2 separate regions of the Homo sapiens genome follow, and region 1 is linked to region 2. The links come from fine-mapping of genetic effects on gene expression. A gene starts in region 2. The other region holds a variant in brackets. All regions are shown on one strand. Distances are from middle to middle. Region 1 has its middle 35 kb from the start of CLIP1. Region 2 holds the start of CLIP1 (CAP-Gly domain containing linker protein 1).

Region 1 (12,367 bases), 34 kb before region 2:
TCCGTGGACCCCCAGTTAAGAACCTTGCAGCAGGGCTGGATGTGGTGGCTCACGCCTGTAATCCCAATGCTTTGGGAGGCCAAGACAAGAGGATAGGTTGAGGCCAGTAGTTTGAGACCAGTCTTGGCAACATAGCAAGGTTCGAGACCTGTCTCTACAAAAAATAAACAAAATTAGCTTGGTGTGGTGGTACACACCCGTGGTCCCAACTGCTCGGAAGGCTGAGATAGGAGGACGGTCGAGGCTGCAGTGGACTGTGATCGTGACATTGAACTTCAGCCTGGGTCAGAGACAGACCCTGTCTCCTAAGAAAAAAAAATTTTGTTGAGCAAGTGACTAGATTCAAAGGTTAAAATAGCCTACTTGTATATTACCTTTTAGAGATTGGCTGAGGTCTAAGTAGATTGGTGCTCAGGGTAAGAGTTTGAACTCAGTGATCACTAAGGTTCCTTCCAACTCTTTTTTTTTTTAGAGAAAGGGTGTTGCTCTGTTGCCCAGGCTTCAGTGCAGTGATGTGATCATAGCTCACTATAGCCTCGAACACCTGGGCTCTCGCTATCCTCCTGCCCGGCCTCCCAAGGAGCTGGGGCTAAAGGCACATGCTGCCATGCATGGCTAATTTTTTCATTTTTATTTTATTTATTTATTTATTTTATTATTTTTATTTTTTGAGACGGAGTCTTGCTCTGTCGCCCAGGCTGGAGTGCAGTGGTGCAATCTCAGCTCACTGCAAGCTCCGCCTCCCGTGTTCGCGTCATTCTCCTGCCTCAGCCTCCGGAGTAGCTGGGACTACAGGTGCCCGCCACCACGCCCGGCTAATTTTTTGTAGTTTTAGTAGAGACAGGGTTTCACCGTGTTAGCCAGGATGGTCTGGATCTCCTGACCTTGTGATCCTCCCACCTCGACCTCCCAAAATGCTGGGATTACAGGCGTGAGCCACTGCGCCCAGCCTCATTTTTATTTTTGTAGACATGGGGTCTCAGTTTGTTGCCCAGGCTGCTCTTGAACTCCTGGGCTCAAGCAATCCTTCTGCCTCAGCCTCCCAAAGTGCTGGCATTACAGGCCAGAGCCACTGCACCCAGCCATCCTTCCAACTCCTTGGTCTGTGTTTTGCCCTTACTTGAGCTTCCTTCATCATAACTTGCAAACTTGCATTTCATTTTTGATGAACTGAAGCAATTTTCTTTCTTTTTTTTTTTTTTTTTTTTTTTGAGATGGAGTCTCGCTCTGTCACCCAGGCTGGAGTGCAGTGGCGTGATCTCGGCTCACTGCAAGCTCTGCCTCCCAGGTTCACGCCATTCTCCTGCCTCAGCCTCCCGAGTAGCTGGGACTACAGGCACCTGCCACCATGCCCAGCTAATTTTTTGTGTTTTTAATAGAGATGCGGTTTCACCATGTTAGTCAGGATGGTCTCAATCTCCTGACCTCGTGATCTGCCCGCCTCGGCCTCCCAAAGTGCTGGGATTACAGGCGTGAGCCACCGCACCCGGCCTGAACTGAAGCAATTTTCTAAGCTCCTTCTTTATTCTGATGCTCAGAGTAAAATTGCCAGTATATTTAATGTGCTTTGTGTAAATGACTCACTCCTGAGTGTTTTTAGGATGTTTAGATAAAGATAGGCCTTGTTGTGCTCTTTAGAAGAAATTGCGACCAAGTGTGTTTTACAAAGGAATAGGTAAATAACTGCAGGCACAAAACATAAATGATCCACTGAATATTCATCAGTTATGGTAGGAATGGGTGGTATTCATTTCCCAGTTTGTTGAGTATTTTTATCAAGAAGGAGTATTGAGTTTTGTCAAATACATTTTCCGTATTGAGATTATCATGCAGTTTTTGTCCATTCTATTGATTCAATGTATTACATTAATTGATTTTCAGATGTTGAACCAACCTTGTATTCTATCACATTTGATCATATTGTTTAATCCTTTTTATATATTGGTGGATACAGTTTGCTAGTATTTTGGTGAGGATTTTGTATCTATGTTTATTAAAATATTGGTCAGTAGCTTTCTCCTTTTTCAACCATTTCTTGTATTGATTTTTAATTAAAAAATAATTTTTTTTTGAGACAGGGTCTCTCTCTGTTGCTCAGGCTGGAGTGCAGTGGCAAAATCTTGGCTCAATGCAACCTCCACCTCCCAGGCTCAAGAGATCCTCCCACTTCAGACTCCTGAGTAGCTGGGACAACAGGTGTACACCACCATGCCAGGCTAATTTTTTTATTTTTTGTAAAGATGGAGTTTGACCATGTTGTCAGGCTAATTTTTTAAATTTTAATTTTTTTGAACCAAAATGTCTTTTAATTGAATACTGAATACATTCTGTTAGGACATAAGAGTGACTGACAATTTTTTTTTTTTTTTTGACACGGAGTTTTGCTCTTGTTGCCCAGGCTGGAGTGCAGTCATGCGATCTTGGCTCACTGCAACCTCTGCCTCTCAGGTTCAAGCAATTCTTGTGCCTCAGCCTCCCTAGTAGCTGGGATTACAGGCACCTGCCACCATGCCCGGCTAATTTTTGTATTTTTAGTAGCACAGGGTTTCACCATGTTGGCCAGGCTGGTCTCGAAGTCCTGACCTCAGATGATCACCCGCCTTAGCCTCCCAAAGTGCTGGGATTACAGACACAAGCTCGATTTTACAGCCCAGTTTTTTTTTTTAAGACAGGATCTCCCTTTGCTGCCCAGGCTGGAGCACAGTGACATAAACATCGCTCACTGCAGCCTCTACCTCCTGGGCTCAAGTGATCCTCCCGTCTCAGCCTCCCAAGTATCTGAGACCACAGGTAAGCACCACCATGCCCAGCTAATTTTTAAATTTTTTATAGAGACAGAGTCTTGCCTTGCTGCCTGGGTGAGTCTCAAACTCCTGGGCTCAAGAGATCCTCCCACTTCAGTCTCCCAAAGTGCTAGGATTGCAGGCATGAGCCACTGCGCCTTTATAAGACTGATGTCTTTATAAGAAGAGGGAAATCTGGCACAGAGAGATGGAGGCAGAAAGCGATGTGGAGATGGAGGCAGAGACTGGAGTGATGCATCTATGAGCCAAGGAATGCCAGAAGCTGTGAGAGAGGCATGGAACAGCCCGTCCCTCAGAGTGCCCAGAAGGAGCCAACCTGGGAATTCTAGCCTTGAAAGCTGAGAGAATATGGCTGGGCTCAGTGGCTCACCCCTGTAATCCCAGGACTTTAGGAGGCCAAGGTTGCAGTGAGCTGAGGTCGTGCCATTGCACTCCAGCCTGGGCAACAGAGTGAGACTCTGTCTCAAAAAAACAAAACAAAACTGAGAACTGAGAGAATATGTTTCTACATTTCTGCTGATTAAGCCACCCAGTTTGAGGGACTTTGTGGAAGGCCCCAGTTAGCTGATTCTCATCCTTACAGACAGGCAGAATCTTTTCCAAAGAATTGCATCCATGTTCATCTTTTCCTGTTTTCTGTGATCTCTGAGGAGTCCGAGACTTCCAGAATGAGATGAGCATTTCATAGTCAACATTGGCCTTATCTCGCCAGACACTGAGTACAGTCAACCCTACAGTAAACTCTACTATACTATATTACTATATAGGGCTATGCTATAGCAATAGTTCTCAACACAGAGTTTACAGACAAATTGTCTCTCAGAAATCCACAAGTTCTCCACATAATTATTTTTTTTTGAGACGGGGGGTCTCTCTGTTGTCCAGGCTAGAGAGCAGTGGTGAACTCTTGGCTGACTGCAGCCTCGACCTCCCAGGCCCAAGTGATCCTCCCAACTCAGCCTCTGAGTAGCTGGGATCACGGGTGCACGCCACCACACCCGGCTAATTTTTTTTTTTTTTTTTTCAGTAAAGACAGGATTTTGCCACGTTGCCCAGGCTGGTCTGGAATTCCTGGCCTCAAGTGATTGCCCACCTTGGCCTCCCTAAGTGCTGGGATTACAAGCGTGAGCTGCTGTGCCTGGCCCTGATAAATTTTTATATTTTCTGCTTTCATTTCAATGATAATGAAAAATCAGACATTAAGATCTTTTTTTTAATTTATTTTTTTGAGACAGCGTCTCGCTCTGTTTCCCAGGCTAGAGTGTTGTGACGCAATCTCGGCTCACTGCGACCTCTGCCTCCCAGGTTCAAGGGATTCTCCTACCTCAGCCTCCCAAGTAGCTGGGGTTACAGGCGTGCACCACCACACCCAGCTAATTTTTGTATTTGTAGTAGAGACAGGATTTTGCCATGTTGGCCAGGCTGGTCTCGAACTCCTGACCTCAGGTGATCCACCCACCTCAGCCTCCCAAAGTTACTGGGATTACAGGCGTGTGCCACTGCACCCGGCCTCAGACATCATGATCTTATTCCTGGTCATGATGCACTACCACACAACCACGTGCTGCTGTGTAATTTCAGTGCCCACATACTGTTTATTATCATGCTACTGCAAAGTTAAATCCTAAAGTCACTGCTATTTTGAATTTTTATCTTTTTGAGATAGGTCTTGCTATATTGCCCAGGCTGGCCTCAAATTCCAGGGCTCAAGGGATACCCCCCCTCCAACATCAGTGTCCTGGGTAGCTGGGACTACTGGCTGGCATGTGCCACCATGCCTGACTCTATTTCTATTTCTATTTATTTATTTAAGAGACAGGGTCATGCTCTGCTGCCCAGGCTGGAGCGCAGTGACGCAATCACAGCTCACTACACTCTCAAACTCCTGGGCTCAAGCTATCTTCCCTCCTGAGTAGCTGGACTACAGGTGCATGGCACCATGCCTGGCTAATTAAAAAAATTTTTTTTGTAGAAACAAGGTCTTGCTGTGTGGCCCAGGCTGGCCTCAAACTCCTGGGCTCAAGCAATCTGTCTGCCTTGGTCTCCCAAAGTACTGGGATTACAGGAGTGAGCCATTGCACCTAGCCCTTAAAGGAATTTTTTTCTTTTTCTTTTTTTTTTTTTTTTTTGAGACAGAGTCTTGCTCTCTTGCCCAGGATGGAGTGCAATGGCACGATCTCGACTCACTGCAGCCTCTGCCTCCTGGGCTCAAGTGATTCTCCTGCCCCAGCCTCTGGAGTAGCTGGAATTACAGGTGCCCTCCAAGACACCCGGCTAATTTTTTTATTTTTAGTAGAGTTGGGGTTTTACCATGTTGGCCAGGCTGGTCTCAACTCCTGACCTCAGGTGATCCACCTTCCTGGGCCTTCCAGCCACCATGCTAGGCCTAAAGCAACTTCTAAATGAAGTGCTTCTCAAGCAGAAACCAAGGACAAATTCTCAGCAGCCAGAGAGTTGCCATGTGTGATAAATACTAGTGTGATGAATCAGAACGATCAATACATGAAAGAGCTTCGGGCCAGGCATGGAGGTTCATGCGTGTGATCCTAGCACTTTGGGAGGCCGTGGCAGGAGGACAGCTTGAGCCCAGGAGTTCAAGATCAGCCTGGGCAGCATAGCGAAACCCTACAAAAAATCAAAGATTAGCTGGGCATGGTGGCACACACATGAGCCCGGGAGGTCAAGGCTGCAGTGAGCCAAGATCACACTATTATACTCCAGCCTGGGCAACAGAGCAAGACCCTGTCTCAAAAAAAAAAAAAATTAAATAAATAAATAAATAAATAAATAAATAAATAAATAAAATTAGCCATGTGTGGTGTTGCACACCTGTAGTCCCATATACTCAGGAGACTGAAGTTGGAGGATTGCTTGAGCCCAAGAGGTTGAGGCTGCAGTGAGCCCTGATTGTGCCATATCATTCCAGCCTGAGTGACACAGCGAGACCCTGTCGCACACACACACATACACATGCACGCACACGTACACATGCACGCACACACGGCCGGGCACAGTGACGCATGCCTGTGATCCCAGCACACTGGGAGGCTAAGGCAGGTGGATCACTTGAGGTCAGGAGTTTGAGACCAGGCTGGCCAATATGGTGAAACCCTGTCTCTACTTAAAAAAAAAAAAAATTAGCTGGGTATGGTGGTGCATGCGTGTAGTCCCGGCTACTCAGGAGGCTGAGGCAAAAGGATCACTTGAGCCCAGGAAGTGGAAGTTGTAGTGAGCCGAGATCACGCCACTGCACTCCACCCTGGGTGATGGGAGTGAAACACTGTCTCAAAAAACAAACAAACAAAAACCAAAAGTAGGTGGTTTTTATTAGTTTCCTAGGTCTGCTATAACAAACTACCAAAAACCTGGGTGGATTTGAAGAAGAGAAATGTATTGTCTCACAGTTGTGGGGCTGAAGTCTGAGGTGAAGGTGTCAGCAGGGCCCTGGTCCCTCTGAAGACTCCAGGGGAGAAACTGTTCCTTGCTCCCCTCCCAGCTTCTGGTGTCCCCAGGCATTCATTAGATTGCATATGCACCCCGTCCTCCCTGTTCCCATGGATTCTCCCTTTATGGCATCTGTCCTGTGTGTCCACACGTGTCTGTGCCCAAACTTCCTTTTCAGAAGGTTCCCATCATATTGGAGTCAGGCCTACCCCCACTGACCTCCTCAATTACTTCTGTAAAGACCCTGTTTCCTAAGATCCCATTCCAAGGCGCTGGGAGGCAGGACTTTTTTATTTTATTTTATTTTTTGAGATGAAGTCTTGCTCTGTTGCTGGAGTGCAGAGGTGCGATCGCGGCTCACTGCAGCCTCTGCCTCCCAGGTTCAAGGGATTTTCCTGCCTCAGCTTCCGGAGTATTTGGGATTACAGGTGCTGGGTACTATGGCAGGCTAATTTTTGTTATTGTTAGTAGAGACAGGGTTTCACCATTTGGCCAGGCTGGTCTTGAACTCCTGACCTCAGATGATCCGCCCACCTCAGCCTCCCAAAGTGCTGGGATTACAGGCGTGAGCCACCGCACCTGGCCCAGGGGCAGGACTTTAACATATCTCTTTGGAGGGCACACAAGCCAACCCATAACAGGGGTCCAAAAGTGGCACAGGGTCGCTTGCTGGGGTCAACATGATGGTTCTAGGACCAGTCATTACACCTGTACTTCAGTGTATAGGGGAAAAAAAACTGTATTTT[T/A]AAATTTATTTTATTTTTTGAGTCAGGATCTCCCTAGGTCACCCAGGCACGAGTGCAGTGACCTGATCACAGCTCACTGCAGCGTCAACCTCCCACCTCAGGTTCAGGTGATCCTCCCACCTCAACCTCCCAAGTAGCTGGGACTACAGGTGTGCACCACCATGCCTGGCTAATTTTTGTATTTTTAGTAGAGATAGGGTTTTACCATGTTGCACAGGCTGGTCTCGAACTCCTGACCTCAAGTAATCTGCCCGCCTTGGCCTCCCAAAGTGCTGGGATTACAGGTGTGAGCCACCACGCCTGGTCGTATTTTTTGAGACATGGTCTTGCTGTGTCACCCAGGCTGGAGTGCAGTGGTGTGATCGTAGCTCACTGCAGCCTTGACGTCCTGGGCTCAGGTGATCTTCCCACCTCAGTCTCCTGAGGAGCTGGGACCACAGGCGCACACCACCACACCTGGCTTTTTTTTTATTTTTATTTTTGTGGAGACAGGGTGTCACTATATTACCACTGATCTTGAACTCCTGGGCTCAAGCAATCTTCCCAAAGGATCCTCCCTCAGCCTCCCAAAGTGCTGGAATTACAGGCGTGAGCCACTGCTCTCAGCCTAGCAAATGGTTTTCTCTATAACACTCAACACTTCCAGCACCAGATGTGTGGGGTTTTTCCCACACCAACCCCCTCTTCAACTCTCCAGGCATCAACTGGGGGTTCCACAATTCAACTATGACACAAATGACGTGAGCTTAGAGCAGACCCCACAGGCTTAGTATCACAAGACTTCCCCCCATTTCGGTTGCCAATCTCAAGTAGTGGGTCCCTAGTTTACTCAGACTTCTGTCTGACTTGACTACAAATCGAGGCTCCCATGACCCCTTTTCTAGGTCCAATAATTTGCTATGATGGCTTACAAAACTCAAGGAAACATTTTCAGTTACTAGTTTATTATAGAGAATGTGATAGAGGATATACCTGGCCAGCCAGATGAACAGGTACATAGGGCAAGGTGCAGAAGCGTCTGAATACAGGAGCTTCTGTCCCCGGGGAGCAGGGGTGCGCCACACCCCCAGCATGTGGGCGTTTACTAGCCTGCAAGTTCAGAGATTTTTATGGAGATTTTCTTTCTTTCTTTCTTTCTTTCTTGAGACGGAGTCTCGCTCTTTCGCCCAGGCTGGAGTGCAGTGGCACGATCTCGGCTCACTGCAAGCTCTGTCTCCCAGGTTCACACCATTCTCCTGCCTCAGCCTCCCAAGAAGCTGGGACTACAGGCGCCCGCCACCACGCCTGGCTAATTTTTTGTATTTTTTTTTAAGTAGAGACGGGGTTTATCCATGTTAGCCAGGATGGTCTCGATCTCCTGACCTCGTGATCCGCCCGCCTCGGCCTCCCAAAGTTCTGGGATTACAGGCGTGAGCCACTGCGCCCGGCCTTTCCTTCTTTCTTTTTCTTTTCTTTTTTCTTTCTTTTTTTTTTTTTTTTTGAGACGGAGTCTCGCTGTGTCACCCAGGCTGGAGTGCAGTCTCGGCTCACTGCGAGCTCCGCCTTCTGGGTTCACGCCATTCTCCTGCCTCAGCCTCCTGGGAGTAGCTGGGACTACAGGCGCCCACCACCACACCAGGCTAATTTCTTTGTATTTTTAGTAGAGATGGGGTTTCACCATGTTAGCCAGGATGGTCTTGATCTCCTGACCCGGTGATCCGCCTGCCTTGGCCTCCCAAAGTGCTGGGATTACAGGCGTGAGCCACTGCGCCCAGCCTTTTTTTTTTTTTTTTTTTTTTTTTTTTTGAGACAGCATCTTGCTCTGTCACTACTCAGGCTGGAGTGCAGAGGCATGATCACGACTCACTGCAGCCTCAACTTCCAGAGGCTTAAGTGATCCTCCTGCCTCAGCCTCCCAAAGTGCTAGGTTTACAGACTGAGTCCCCACACTCTGCCTTTATGGAGACTTCTTCATGCAGGCGTGATCCATTATTAACTTAATCTCCAGCCCTTTCCCCTCACCCAGAAGACGGAGGGTGAGGCTGAAAGTTTCAGGATGCTAATCATGGTTTGGTCATTCTGGTGACCAGCCCCCATCCTGAAGCTATCCAAGAGCCCACCAAGTTTGGCTTCATTAGAACAATAGGTCTTCCTGTCACCCAGAAAATTCCAAAGGATTAGGCGCTCGTATTAGGAGACAGGGTCAAAGACCAAATGGTAGAACGAAAGATGCTCCTAACATTTTTTGCTTTAGAAACTGCAAAGGTTTTAGGAGCTCTGGCCAGAAGCCAGGGGCAACAAAGATCAAAATGTATATTTCTATTTTTTTTTTTTTTTGACACAGAGTCTCGCTCTGTCACCCAGGCTGGAGGGCAGTGGTGCGATCTTGGCTCACTGCAGCCTCCGCCTCGCGGGTTCAAGTGATTCTCCTTCTCAGCTTCCCGAGTAGCTGGAATTACAGGCATGTGCCACCATGCCCAGCTAACTTTTGTATTTTTAGTAGAGACGGCGTTTCACTGTGTTGGCCAGGCTGCTCTCAAACTCCTGGCCGAAAGTGATCTGCCCACTTTGGCCTTCTAAAGTGCTGGGATTACAGGCGTGAGCCACCATGCCCGGCCTATTTCTTATTATGTCACAATATCACATCCTATCAGCAGGAGGGAGAAAAGAAAGATAAATGTTTGCCCTCTCCCTTTAAGAAAACTGCCTGGACTGGACACTGTAGCTCACCCCTGTAATCGTAACTACTCGAAGGCTGAGGCCGGAGGATCGCTTGAGCCCAGGAGTTCAAGTTTGCAGTGAACTGTAATCATGCCACTATACTCTAGCCTGGGCAACAGAGCAAGCCTCCATCTCTTACACACACACACACACACACACACACACACACACACACTTCCAAGAGGTTGCATGGGCTACTTCAGCTTGGCCAGAACTTATTTTCATGGCCATCCCTAATAACACAGGAAGTTAGGAAATGTCTTCATTCTGGATGTCACATGGCAGGAAGAATCAGATACAGGAAGAGGGTAGAATGGCTTTGAGGGGGGCGGGACTTCTGGTAGTCTCTGCTTCAGTCTTTGAAAATGGAAGCACAGTAGTGAATGTTATAGTTGACTGTGCAATACTCACTTTACCCTGATCATGGTATATTCAGGGTGGACAGACCTGGGCCCATCTGGGCCCACCTGGGCCAAGGAGATGCATGCCAGAGGGTGCGTGTGTGCGTGCACGTGTGTGTGTGCATGCACACGCACACTTAGAAAACCATAGGAAAGGCCAGGAGCAGTGGCTCACACCTGTAATCCCAGCACTTTGGGAGGCCGAGGCAGGCGGATCACCTGAGTTCAGGAGTTCGAGACCAGCCCGGCCTAAAGGGCGAAACCCCGTCTCTACTAAACATACAAAATTAGCCAGGTGTGGTGGCGCAGGCCTGTAGTCCCAGCTACTAGGGAGGCTGAAGTAGGAGAATCGCCTGAACCTGGGAGGCAGAGGTGGCAGTGAGCCAAGATTGCACCACTGCACTCCAGCCTGGGGAGACAGAGTGAGACTCTGTCTCAAAAAAAAAAAAAAAAAAAAAAAGCAAAAGCAAAAGCAAAAGCAAAGCAAACCACAAGAAAGCATGAATAGGAAATTGTCAGGCCTCTGAGCCCAAACTAAGCCATCATATCTCCTGTGCTGCACGAATACATCCAGATGGCCTGAAGCAACTGAAGATCCACAAAAGAAGTGAAAATAGCCTTAACTGATGACATTCCACCACTGTGATTTGTTTCTGCCCCACCCTAACTGATCAATGTACTTTATAATCTCCCCCACCCTTAAGAAGGTTCTTTGTAATTCTCCCCACCCTTGAGAATGTACTTTGTGAGATCCACCCCCTGCCTGCAAAACATTGCTCCTAACTCCACCGCCTATCCCAAAACCTAAAGGAACTAGTGGTAATCACGCCACCCTTTGCTGACTCTCTTTTCGGACTCAGCCCGCCTGCACCCAGGTGAAATAAACAGCCTTGCTGCACACACAAACCCTGTTTGGTGGTCTCCTCACACAACGCATGAGACAGAAATGTATCATATATCATATCCATTGCTCTGGCAACCATCTTACCTTAGGATGGTTGAATGAAGGATGAAGCCACCTCCGCAAATGGCAGAGAAAGAGAAGAAAAGATTTTGGGTGCTTGAGAAATTTAGCGGCTTGAGCCACTACATCAACCAGCCCTGAAGCTGAACCGTGTTGCAAACGTCCTGTTTTGTGAGCTAATGAGTCTCCTTATTGTCTCCGCTAGTCTGAGTTAGACCAGCTGCTGAAATCGTGATAACTGATGTAAACTCTAATAAAATGTAAGGTAATTTTTGACCAGCAGAGCATAAACCTCAACATCTGACTGGTCCCAGCAGATTTAGGCACCCTTATCTCCTTTTAGCTTTAGGAATTTCATTTGGGATTCAAATGGCTTTATCTGACAGGAACATATGCATAGCTGTTTCCAGGTAGGCTCTGATGGCCTGTATTTGATGGAGTAAGATTGGTTTTACATTTAAGAAAGGTTAAAGTAGAGGGGAACAGGCATTCTCATACATTATTGGTGGGGATATAAATTGGCTCACTCTTTTTTGGGAGGGTAATTTTTTTAAAAATGTAAATGTACATATTTTAGATTCAGTGGTTCTAATCTAAGCATTAATCCTACAACTATGTTTGTAAAAGCACACTGTATGCGCTTCAGATTCAAGCTTCTTGGTAAGACAAAAAACATTTTTAAGAAGAAAAGAAATACGAGTATACTATATATGCACCCAAGGCTGTTTATTGTGGCAATGTGTGTAGTAGCAAGTACTGAAAATAACCTAAATGTCTATTGGTAGGAATCTGTTGAAATCATAGCACACTATGATCTTACAACGCAATGGTTTAAAAAAATGAGGAGGCTGGGTACAGTGGCTCGCGCCTGTAATCCCAGCACTTTGGGAATCTGAGGCAGCAGGATCGCTTGAGCCTAGGAGTTCAAGACCAGCCTGAACGACATGGCAAGAACTCATCTCTAGGGAAAAAAAAAATTAAATAATTTAAAATATGGGGCCAGGCGTGGTGGCTCATGTCTATAATCTCAGCACTTTGGGAGGCCGAGGCAGGTGGATCACCTGAGGTTGGGAGTTCGAGACCAGCCTGGCCAACATAGAGAAACCCCGTCTCTACTAAAAATACAAAATTATCCTGTAATCCCGCATACCTGTAATCCCAGCTACTCGGGAGGATGAGGCAGGAGAATTGCTTGAACCTGGGAGGTGGAGGTTGCAGTGAGTAGAGGTTGCACCACTGCACTCCAGCCTGGGCAACAAGAGCAAAACTCTGTCTCAAAAAAAATTTTTTTAATATAAGGTAATCTAC
Region 2 (12,367 bases):
AAAAATAACACCTTTCATTTTTTTCTTTTTTATAAAAATTTATAGTAATAGACACAGGGTTTTACTATGTTGCCCAGGCTGGTTTTGAACTCCTGGGCTCAAGGGATCTTTGCCTCCCAAAGTGCTGGGATTACAGGCGTGAGCCACTGCACCTGGCTAAAACATCTTTAATTTTAGAAGTGTGCTTATTTTGACAGCTTTTGTCTCATTTTTCTATTTAAAAAATTTTTTTTTCACTTAGTGCCTGAAATCAAATCATTTTCTGTTGTAAAAACCTATAAATCCTTACATCTTCATAGCAGTTTATGAATTTTTTTTTTTTTTTTTAGACAGGGTCTTGCTCTGCTGCCCAGGCTGGTGTGCACTGGCTGACTCCAACCTCCAACTCCTGGGTTCAAGCGATCCTTCCGCCTCAGCCTCCCAAGTAGCTGGGATTACAGGCATGCACCACCACCACGCCCGGCTAAGTTTTGTGTTTTTAGAGATAGAGTTTCACCATGTTGGCCAGGCTGGTCTTGAACACCTGACCTCAGGTGATCCACCCACCTTGGCCTCCCTAAATGCTGGGATCACAGGCGCAGTTTATGAAATATTTTTGGCTGGGTGCAGTGGCTCACACCTGTAATCCCAGCACTTTGGGAGGCCGAGGTGGGCAGATTATCTGAGGTCAGGAGTTTGAGACCAGCCTGACCAATATGGTGAAACCCCATCTCTACTAAAAATACAAAAAAAATTAGCTGGGCGTTGTGGCACATGCCTGTAATCCCAGCTACTCGGGAGGCTGAGGCAGGAGAATCGCTTGAATCCGGGAGATGGAGGTTGCAGTGAGCCGAGATCATGCCACTGCACTCCAGCCTGGGCAACAAGAGCGAAACTCAGTCTCAAACAAAACAAAACAAAACAAAACAAGAAATATTTTCAAACCACTATTTTTTACTGTATTGTCCTTGAATGGTGATAAGAACTATTAGTCCCTTAGCGAGAGATTTAAAATCTCTCTAAACTGTAATGAATTAATTTAGACATATTTATTAGTAATTTTTTCAGGATCTGTGGGATTGTAGCTATTTTGTTGCCTTCATTTTGCTTGCCTTAATTTTATGTAATGAACACCTATTGTTCTTTAAAAAAAAAGAAGACAAAATACAAGGAAAAAAGTCTCTAGTTATTTAGAATATAGGAGTCTTACACCACATCCTTCAAAAAGCTAATCTACTGTGGACCCTGCATCCAAGGGATGCAGACACAGCAAGAAATAAGAGTCAACAATCCCTGCTCTCGCTGGGCCCAGTGGCTCACGCCTGTAATCCCAGCACTTTGGGAGGCTGAGACAGGCGGATCACAGGTCAGGAGTTCAAGACCAGCCTGGCCAATATGGTGAAACCCCGTCTCTACTAAAAATACAAAAATTAGCTGGGCATGGTGGTGGGTGCCTGTAATCCCAGCTACTCGGGAGGCTGAGGCAGGAGAATCACTTGAATCCAGGAGGCGGAGGTTGCAGTGAGCCAAGATTGCACCACTGCACTCCAGCCTGAGCGACAGAGACTCATTCTCAAAAAAAAAAAAAAATTCCCCACTCTCTGGAAATTCACGTTCTTGTAGGGATGGAAGGAAACAGATAATAAAACAAAACAAACCTGTTGTACTGCCGAAACCTGTCACAGAATCAATGCTAAAGAGCTGGGGAGAAAAAAACCACCAACACCCATGATTTTACGGAGAATAATCTCTACTCATTTTGGTTGAGGATCTTAATTCCTTCTTCTTCTTCTTTTGTTCTTTTTTTAAAGAAATTGGGGCTGGGTGCAGTGGCTGACACCTGTAATCCCAGCACTTTGGGAGGCCAAGGTGGATGGATCACTTGAGGTCAGGAGATCAGCCTGGCCAACATGGCAAAACACTGTCTCTATTGAAAATAGAGACAGTATCTCTACTGAAAATACAAAAATTAGCTGGGCGTGGTGGCGCGTGACTGTAGTCCCAGTTACTCAGGAGGCTGAGGCAGGAGAATCACTTGAACCTGGGAGCCGCAGGTTGCAGTGAGCTGAAATTGCGCCATCGCACTCCAGCCTGGTGACAGCGCGACTCCATCTCAAAAAAAAAAAAATGAGCTGGGTGTGGTGGCTCACACCTGGGATCCCAACATTTTGGGAGGCCAAGGCGGAAAGATCCTTTGAGCCAAGGAGAGATCAGTCTTGGCAACATAGTGAGACCTCATCTCCATGTTTAAAAACAACAACAACAACAACAACAAATAAATGAAAGTAATGTTTTTTTGTTTGTTTGAGATGGGGCTTTGCTCTGTCACCCAGCCTGGATGGAGTGCAGTGGCTGGAACACGGCTCACTGCAGCCTCAACTTCTTGGGCTCAAGCCATCCTCCCACCTCTACCTCCTGAGTAGCTAGGACTACAGGTGCACACCACCACACCCAGCTTGCTTATTTATTTATTTATTTATTTATTTATTTATTTATTTATTGAGATGGAGTCTCGCTCTATTGCCCAGGCTGGAGTGCAGCGGCGCAAGCTCAATGCAACCTCCGCCTTCTAGGTTCAACTGATTCTCCTCCCTCAGCCTCCTGAGTAGCTGGAACCACAGGTGCATGCCACCATAGCTGGCTAATTTTTGTATTTTTAGTAGAGACTGGGTTTCGCCATGTTGGCCAGGCTGGTCTCAAACTCCTGAGCTCAGGCAATCCACCTGCCTCGGCCTCCCAAAGTGCTGGGATTATAGGTGTGAGTCACTGTGCCCGGCCAATTTTTTATATTTTTTTTTTGGTAGAGATGGGGCCTTGCTATGTTGCCCAGGTGGGTCTCCAACTCCTCAGCTCAAGCAGTCCTCCCACCTTGGCCTCCCATATTGCTGGGATTATAGGTGTGAGCCACTGCTCCTGGCCTTGCACATGGTTTTAAAAAATAAAATACATTCAGGTTTATAATTAAAAGCAGTCTGGGCATGGTGGCTCATGCCAGTAATCCCAGCACTTTGGGAGGCCAAGATGGGAGGATTGCTTGAGCCCAGGATTTTGAGACCTGGGCAACATAGACAGACTCTGGCTCTACTAAAAATTAAAAAAAATTAGCTGGGCATGGTGGCACGTGCCTGTAGTCTGAACCAGTCTGGAGGCTGAGGTAGGAGGATCACTCGAGCCCAGGAGCTCCAGGTTGTAGTGAGCTATGATTGCACCACTGCACTCTAGTCTGGGCAACAGAGCAAGACCCTGTCTCAAAACAAAACAAAACAAAACAAAACAACAACAACAAACAAAAACAAAAAAACAAAAGAACAAAAGAAAAGAAAAGCAACAGTTCTCAGTTCTTCTACCTCACTCCTACCTAGTCTTAACCCTGTTCCCCAGAGACTATTAATTTTTTGCTTTTAGTTCTTCTGGTGTTAACTTCCATCTCTCTAAAAATATTGTTGTGGGCCAGGCACGGTGGCTCACGCCTGTAATCCCAGCACTTTGGGAGGCTGAGGGGGACAGGTTGCCTGAGCCCAGGAGTTTGAGACCAGCCTGGGCAACATGGCAAAACTCCATCTCTACTAAAAATACAAACAATTAGCTGGGCATGGCTGTGCATGCCTGTAGTCCCAGCTACTTAGGAGGCTGAGGTGGGAGGATCATCTGATCCCGGGAAGTAGAGGCTGCAGGGAGTCATGATTGCAGCACTGCGCTCCAGCCTGGGTGACAGGAATGAGACCTCATCTCAAGAAAACAAAAACAAAAATACATAAAAATATACTTGTGTTATTTATCAACTGTAGGCATTATCTATTGACTTTCTGTTATGACTAAGGCACGACTACCTCTCCTCTCCACACAATCCTGCCACTATTTTTAATTATTCCTATTGGTTACGTTAATGATATCATTAAACCTTAATTTTTTGGGGAAAAAAAAACAGAAAACAAAACCCTAGGTATTTACCTACCTCCCCGCTTTGTAAAATGAAGACTTGAGAGCTCTTATTTTGCATTCTACTTCTGCAACATCCCTTCCACCTCCCAATGTCTCATCAATTGAGCTGTTCTCATATTTACAGAAGACATGCATTTAAGAAAGCACTGTGGCAGTCGGGCGCGGTGGCTCATGCCTGTAATCCTAGCACTTTGGGAGGCCGAGGTGGGCGGATCACGAGGTCAGGAGATTGAGACCATCCTGGATAACACAGAGAAACCCCCTCTCTACCCAAAATACAAAAAATTAGCTGGGTATGGTGGTACGTGCCTGTAGTCCCAGCTACTTGGAAGGCTGAGGCAGGAGAATAGCTTGGCCCTGCAAGGCGGAGGTTGAAGTGAGCCGAGATGGTGCCACTGCACTCCAGACTGGGCGACAGAGCGAGACTCAGTCTTAAAAAAAAAAAAAAAAAAAAAGCACAGTGGCTAGATCTAAAAACAGAATGTAAATATTGAAGGAGGAACTTTGAGTCCTAACAGTGGCCACCTGGGGTCTGAGCCCTGTCAATGCCCTGGTAGTAGGGCTGAGACCAGGCCTTGCTCACACAATTGAAGGAGGCAGTGAAGGTAAACAATATTGCGATATGCTAATTTTTTTTTTTTTTTTTTTTGGAGATAGAGTCTCCCTCTGTCGCCCAGGCTGCAGTGCGGTGGTGCTATCTTGGCTTATTGCAACCTCCGCCTCCTGGGTTCAAGCAATTCTTCTGCCTCAGCCTCTCTAGTAGCTGGGATTACAGGCATGCGCCACCATGCCCGGCTAATTTTTGTATTTTTAGTAGATACGGGGTTTCACTATATTGGCCAGGCTGGTCTCGAGCTCCTGACCTCGTGATCAGCCCGCTGTGCCCGGCTGATATATTTTTTAAAAAATAAAAATTAATGGCCGGGCACGGTGGCTCACGTCTGTAATCCCAGCACTTTGGGAGCCCAAAGCAGGCGGATCACGAGGTCAGGAGATCGAGACCATCCTGGCTAACACGGTGAAACCCTGTCTGTACTAAAAAAATACAAAAAATTAGCCGGGCGTGGTGGCGGGCACCTGTAGTCCCAGCTACTCGGGAGGCTGAGGCAGGAGAATGGCGTGAACCCGGGAGGCAGAGCTTGCGGTGAGCCGAGATCGCACCACTGCACTCCAGCCTGGGCGACAGAGTGAGACTCCATCTCAAAAAAAAAAAAAAAAAAAAAAATTAACGCCAAGACTCCATGATGAACAAAATGATATAATTATAAATAAATAAGCAAATGATGAACATGACAATGACATAGAATAACCCATGAGAACAAGCAAATATACACACACACACACACACACATATATATACATATATATATACATGTGTATATATATATATATTTTTTGAGACAGAGTCTCCCTCCGGCACCCAGGCTGGAGTGTAGTGGCTTGAACTCTGGTCACAGCAACCTCCGCCTCCCGGGTTCAAACAATTCTCGTGTCTCAGCCTCCCGAGTAGCTGGGACTACAGGCATGCACCACCATGCCCAGTTAATTTTTGTATTTTTTGTTAGAGACGGGGTTTCACCATGTTGGCCAAGCTGGTCTTGAACTCCTGTCTGCAGGTGATCCACCCACCTGGGTCTCTCAAAGTGCTAGAATTACAGGCGTGAGCCACCACACCCAGCCCCAAAACAATATTTTTAATAAAGACAGGCTCAGCCTACTGAGTAGAGAAGAAAAGACAAGCCCATAAGTGTTCCTAGCTGAACTCCCCCATTAGAAGTGGTCTGTGCCTCATCCTATGACATCTATGATTCCACAGCTTGCTGATTACAGCTGAAGACTGTTTAGATTAGGGGGTGAGGCGCGCCTTTCAGATTAGGAATATGGATATGGGATTTCAGGAGTACCACCACCACCTGACCTTGCAGCCTGTAAATTAGGGCGATGTTGAATTAGGTAACAGCATTTCGAGGGATTTCAGACATGAATGGAGAGGAGGGGCCAGGAGACAAATTTACATAGTTCAGAACTTCGTGCATTACCAGAGCAGTTCCCTCTTCCTGCTGGTCCAGGCAGCACGGTGCTTTGAATAAAGGTCAGCTAGAGGGGTCACCCGCCGATTATTCTCTTCTACTGGCAAGGAGGAGGAAGCCCCTGCCCCCTTATCCACCACAAAATCCTGGGCTTCCCCGACAGCTGCAAATTCCTCCCTGGAGATGTAAGGCTTCTGGGGTTGCCATGGTCCATGGGAGTGAAATGCTGGCCGCCCTCTGCTACCCCAGCCCCGAGCAGGCTGTTGCAGCCTTCCCTCCTGTCCCTTTCAAAAGCTTTTAAAGGAAATCCCAGGGGGGAAGGAGGATGGGACACTAACCAGGGCTTCCGTCCAAGCAGCCAGGGCGAATAAAAGGGGCTTTTCTCAAACGAACGGAGCAAACCCTGGGATCGTTTCAAAGGATTTTTAACCCGCGGTCGTTCCCGGAGGGAAGTGGGGAGCAGATACAGTTCTTCCCAAGCTTAACCTGCTCTACAGTTCCTTTCAGCATTTTCTCCAGGGACGCCTCATCCAGGGTCTTTCCCTGGAGGGAGGCGAGGGCAGAGATGATCCTTCCCAATCCCCAACTTAACCTGCTTCGGAAGCGCCTTGCAGCCTGTTTCAAAGGATTTCTCACCCTTGTCTGGCGGGAAGGGGAGGGCAAACAAATGAATCAGCCCCAAAGAGCGGGCTGAGGTCGAGGCTGAATGGGGCTCTTGGGTGTGACTTGCAAATTCTGGGAACACTTTGCAGAAATGACGAGAAGCCCCTCGGAGCAGGCCTGTGGGTTTTCCCTCGCACCTTGCTCCCCAAGCCGGGGCTCGGGAGGGTTCGAGGGCGGAGCGGCGGGCGCGCCGGGGCCAGGGTCCTCCCGGGGCCGCGGTGGGCGCAGACAAAGAGGCGGCGGGGCGGCGCGGGGCCGGGCGCGGGCCGCAGGGCCGGTGCGGACTCGAGGGGCCGGGCCGGCCGGGCCGGCCGGGCGGGCGCGGCGGCGGAGCGCTGGGAGGAGCCGCGCGGCGTCTTCTCCTGGCAGCGCGCGCCCGCCCGGCCCCGCGGCGGCGGCGGCGCGTCACGCTCTCCCCCGCCCCGAGCCGACGAGCCGGGAGGCGGGAGGCGGCGGCCGCGGCGGCTGCTGCTGCTGCAGTGGGACAGGTGGCGGCGACCGGCGGCGTCCGAGGAGGTGAGCAGGGGGCGGCGCGGGCCCTCTCCCTTTCCCGGCACCCCCTGCTCCCCTGCCGGCTTCCCGGCCTGCGGGGCCCGCCCAGGGTCGGGTCGGGGGTCGAAGCCCGGCGTCCGGGAGCGGGGCCGAGCCTCGCGCGCCGGAGCCGTCCGGGAGGGGACCGCGGGAGTCTCGGGTGGCCGGCGCCGGAGGCCGGGGGTCCCTGGGGGGCTCCTCCGGAGCTGGAAAAGTGGCGGCCCTGTCAGCGCCGAGCCGGGCCTTCGCTTCCTCCGCCCGCCTCAAGATGGAGCTTGGACTCCTTGCCCCTGCGCCGCCCCAGGCGCCGCTCTCTCCCTGGCGCCCCGCTCCCTCTCCTGGGCCCCGGGGCGGATGTGGGATCGGCCGGACCCCGGGAGGCCGAAGCCGGGCGGGACCTGTTGCCCCGGGCGCCGCGCCTGTCACCTGAGCATTCCTCAGGCCCCGGGTGCCCGGCGCCCGCGATCCGGCATGGAGGGCACCCTGGCCCGGCCTCCCCCGCTGCCCCGGCTTTTGTTTTCCTCTCAAGTGGGGCTGTGATTCTCGGAGACCGGGGAAGGCTGGAGGTGGCCAGATCGCTCTCGGGTTTCCGAAATCACACCGCTGCCCGGTAATCCGAACCTTCTACCGCGGCAGGGGATTGGCGCGGAAGGCAGATGACACTTGTTCAGAGGTTATTTTACAAGCAGAACCTAGCGATTGCCCGAATTGGAAGGTCCTGCCTTTCAAAAATCGGGTTTTGATTCGGGGGTGAATCCTGAATCCGGCTGTTTCTCCACTTCATGTGGCTTTTCCATCTGGCAGGAGCCGAGCGCCACCCCCTCCTCCCTGCACAGCCCCACCTCTTTGGTATGAAGAAATTACACGTTGTCCGTCATCGGTTTAGATACCTGTTTTTAGCAAAACTTGGGCGCCAGTGAACTGTTTTTTAAAACAAAGGGTGGAGAAGATTCTGTAATTGTGTGTGTGTGATTCAGCAGCCTGGCCTTCTTCCTCTTTTAGGACAGTGGCCCCTAGCAGCTCTATAAGTATTAAGTGCTGTGGCCACTGCTGTCATTAGGGTTATGATTCTGGCTGTTCTTATTATTTGATTTGTGTCACTACTGTTAGCGATGGTATCCACGAATCAGGAGAGTATCCCAGAGTCAGGAATGTGTTTGTTTGACTTTTAGATTTAATGATAACCTTTAGCAAGAATCCCCAGGCATGTCGCTTCTCAGACTTGGGGCCTTTTTTTCTCTGTAAATTATAACAATGAACATTTATTGAAGGCATCTTGTGGCCAGGCTCTGGGCTAGCTTTTTATGTGTTTTATTTCATTTAATCAACCCTAACCCAGTGAGCGTGCTGTCGTCATGTGCATTCGGCAGGAGGGTCATAGAAAGGTCAAGTAACTTGACCAGGGTTATACAGCTAAGCACCTGAAGTCAGAATACCTTTTACCAGCATGTGAACTCAGGTATTCTGACTTCAGGTGCTTAGTTATTCGATTAGTATAGGGAATCTGTGGCAAAAAGCAAGGCTAGTCTGTCTGTCTGTCTATCCATCCATCAATCAATCAATCAATCAATGAGAGGGAGCCTCAATCTGTCCCCCCGGCCAGAGTGCAGTGGCGTGATCTCAGCTCACTGCAATCTCGGCCTCCCAGGTTTAAGCGATTCTCGTGCCTCAGCCTCCTGAGTACTGGAATTACAGGTGCCCGCCACCACGCCCGGCTAATTTTTGTATCTGTGGTAGAGATGGGGTTTCACCACGTTGCCCAGGCTGATTTCGAACTCCTGGGCTCAAGTCATCCACCTGCTTTGGGCTCCCAAAGTGCTGGGATTACAGGTGTGAACTACCGCACCTGGCCCCAAGGCTGGTCTACATTAAAGCAAAGTTGAAGTGGGTAATTGCTTGGCCAAAGGCTTGTGCCCGATTTTTAAGGTTCAGAGAAAGCAGTTAAGTACATCTTCCCACTAGACCTAGTTCAAAGGGGAAAACTGAAACCGGGTGGGACCCTGGGTAGGTATTTTGCCTGAAGATCAAGATTTTGCCCTTCCCTATTTTTTCAATCATTGCTTCAGCTCCAGCTTGCACTTCAGCATGACATAAGCTAATCTGGTTTCTGTCCTATTGAGGAGTTTAGAATCTGATATCCTTATCTCTTTTTTTTTTTTTGACATGGAATTTCACTCTTGTTGCCTAGGCTGGAGTGCAATGGAGTGATCTCGGCTCACTGCAACCTCTGCCTACTGGGTTCAAGCGATTCTCCTGCCTCAGCTTCCCGAGTAGCTGGGATTTTAGGTGCCTGCCACCATGCCTGGCTAATTTTTTGTATTTTTTTAGTAGAGATGGAGTTTCATCACGTTGGCCAGCCAGGCTGATCACACCTGACCTCAGGTGATCCGCCTGCCTCAGCCTCCCAAAGTGCTGGGATTATAGGTGTGAGCCACCACGCCTGGCCTGATGTCCTTATCTTAAAAAAAATTTTTTTTACCTAGTGGCTAAAATTCACTCTGTCACATCCCATGTGACTCATAAGGGACATGAACTAACTCAGTCATGTTTGATTCTTGCTTTTTTTTTTTTTTTTTTTTGAGACAGAGTCTCGCATCTCGCTCTGTTGCCCAGGCTGGAGTGCAGTGGTGCAACCTCCGCTTCCCAGGCTCAAGCAATTCTCCTGCCTCAGCCTCCCGAGTAGCTGGGATTACAGGCACACACCACGGCACCGGGCTAGTTTTTGTATTTTTAGTAGAGACAGGGTTTCACGATGTTGGCCAGGCTGGTCTCGAACTCCTGACCTCAAGTGATCCTCTCACCTCGGCCTCCCAAAGTGCTGGGATTACAGGCATGAGCCACTGTGCCCGGCCGATTCTTGCTTTTTAAGTGCTGTCTGCTGGGATTCGAAAGCCAGTGGATGGTGTATAAGAGATGAGTTGATTCTCTTATGGCCCATACAAAGGTAGGCACCTTTGAACCTTTCACATACTGGGCACCTGGTTCTTCGTTATTACTTACAGGTAGATTTCTGGTCTTCCTTGAATAGATATATCAAGGCCAGGGTCTTCACATTTCGGGACCCTTGCAGAATTCTGTGGAGTTCCATGTACTCAGTAAACGTTTCTTATTTTTTTTTAATTAATTTTTTTTTTTTTGAGACAGAGTCTCACTCTGTTGCCCAGGCTAGAGTGTAGTGGTGCAATTTTGGTTCACTGCAACCTTTGCCTCCTGGTTCAAGTGATTCTCCCACCTCAGCCTCCCAAGTAGCTGGGACAACAGGAATCTGTCACATGCCTGGCTAATGTTTGTATTTTTACTAGAGCTGGGGTTTCACCATGTTGGCCAGGCTGGTCTCCAACTCTTGAATTCAAGTGATCCACCTGCTTTGGCCTCCCAAAGTGTTGGGATTACAGGTGTGAGCCACCGTGCCCATCTGTTTCTTGGTTAATTGAAAATATAAGGTTCATAAATGTCAGATTGATTTTATAGAAGTCAAACCAAAGGAAAAAACAGAAGGTAGTATAGTAAAGTCACAGGGAGAGGGTTTAATATTTGTTAACATTACAAGAGAATTTTGTCTATATATTAACTAAATCGAGACTTTCACTTTGTATGACTTTTCACTATCCAAATAATCAGCTTCTTTCTTCTCTGAGAGGTCAAATGTGTTTTTCTCTGATATGAAGAGTAGACAATGTTTATTAGTCATAGCAAGCCTGTAGTTCTCCTTTGCAGTATTTTTATTTTATTTTATTTTTTTAGACACAGGGTCTCGCTCTGTCACGCAGGCTGGAGTGCAGTGGCACAATCGTAGTTCACTACAGCCTTGAACTCCCTCCTGGGCTCAAGCAGTCCTCCCACTTCAGCCTCCTGAGTAGCTAGGACTACAGGTGCATGCTATCATGCCTGGCTAATTAAAAAAATTTTTTTTCCTGTAGAGATGAGGTCTTGCTATGTTTCCCAAGCTGGTCTTGAACTCCTAGGCTCAAACAATCCTCCTAACTTGGCCTCCCAAAGTGCTGGGATTACAGGCATGAGCCACCGTGCCCAGCCCCACTATCCAAATAATCAATTTCTTTCCTTTTCTTGTAGAAATGAGATGGAAGGTCAAGTGTGTTTTTCTTTGATATGAAGAGTAGACAGTGTTGTTTATTATGGCAAATCTATAGTTCTCTTTTGCAGTATTTTTGAACTGTGACAGCATCCCTAAAGGCAGCTTGATGAGCTATGGTATACCTATCTGTGGGCTGTAATTAGATCTCATTTGGTATTCAGGCAACAAATATTTATTGAGCATGTACCGTGTGCCAGGTGCTGTTCTAGATGATGGTGATACAACAGTGAATAAAAGACAGAAATCCCTGTTATTCTCTTGGAACTTCCCTTCAAGTAGAGAAGGCAGACAATAAACAAAAAGTAAATTTATTGTATGTTAGGTGACACATGGCAAAGAAAAAACAATCAGAGAAGGGAAAGTATAAAGTACTAGGGGTAAGAGTTAGAAGAATGGAAATTTTACATAGGGCAGCAAGAGGAGACCTAGCTGGGAATGTGACTTTCGAGTAGAGACAGAAAGGAAGTGAAGGAATGTAGAGCCCAGAGAGAAAAACATCCTAGGGAGAAGGAAGGAGGAGGCAGGACATTGAAGACTTTCTAGGCTGTAGTCCTTAAAATATGTATTTGTTGAAATATTTAAAAATACAGAATAATTTGGCCGGGCGCGGTAGCTCACACCTGTAATCCCAGCACCTTGGGAGGCCGAGGTGGGTGGATCACGAGGTCAGGAGATTGAGACCATCCTGGCTAACGCAGTGAAACCCCGTCTCTACTAAAAATACAAAAAATTAGCCAGGCTTGGTGGCGGGTGCCTGTAGTCCCAGCTACTCAGGAGGCTGAGGCAGGAGAATGGTGTGAACCCAGGAGGTGGAGCTTGCAGTGAGCGGAGATCTCGCCACTGCACTCCAGCCTGGGCGACAGAGCGAGACTCCGTTTCAAAAAAAAAAAAAAAAAAAAGGCAGAATAATTTTATGCCTTTTTAAAAAATTGCTTTTGTTTTTTAGAGACAGAGTCTCACTCGGTCACCAGGCTGGAGTGCAGTGGCACAATTATAACTCACTATAGCCTTGGACTCCTGGACTCAAGCCGTCCTCCTGCCTCAGCCTCCCAAGTAGCTAGGAGGTGTGTACCACCACACACAGTAAGTTTTGTTTTGTTTTGTTTTGTTTTTAAGACAAAATCTT

Evidence for each region.
Region 1: its variant is fine-mapped to the expression of CLIP1 in whole blood (TOPMed, PIP above 0.99).

Annotation. Positions count from the first base shown.
Region 1 is chr12:122,451,734-122,464,100 of GRCh38, reverse strand. No RefSeq gene overlaps it. Among named protein-coding and RNA genes, the nearest start is that of CLIP1, 35 kb to the right of the region's middle. RefSeq lists enhancers at 5,911-5,960, 5,981-6,040, 6,071-6,120. The variant T/A (reference allele first, on the strand shown) is at 6,995.
Region 2 is chr12:122,417,284-122,429,650 of GRCh38, reverse strand. CLIP1 (CAP-Gly domain containing linker protein 1) reads left to right here and starts at 6,982. Exons shown (of 26, transcript NM_001247997.2): 1 at 6,982-7,130. RefSeq lists an enhancer at 5,707-5,806 and silencers at 6,916-7,265, 7,286-7,685.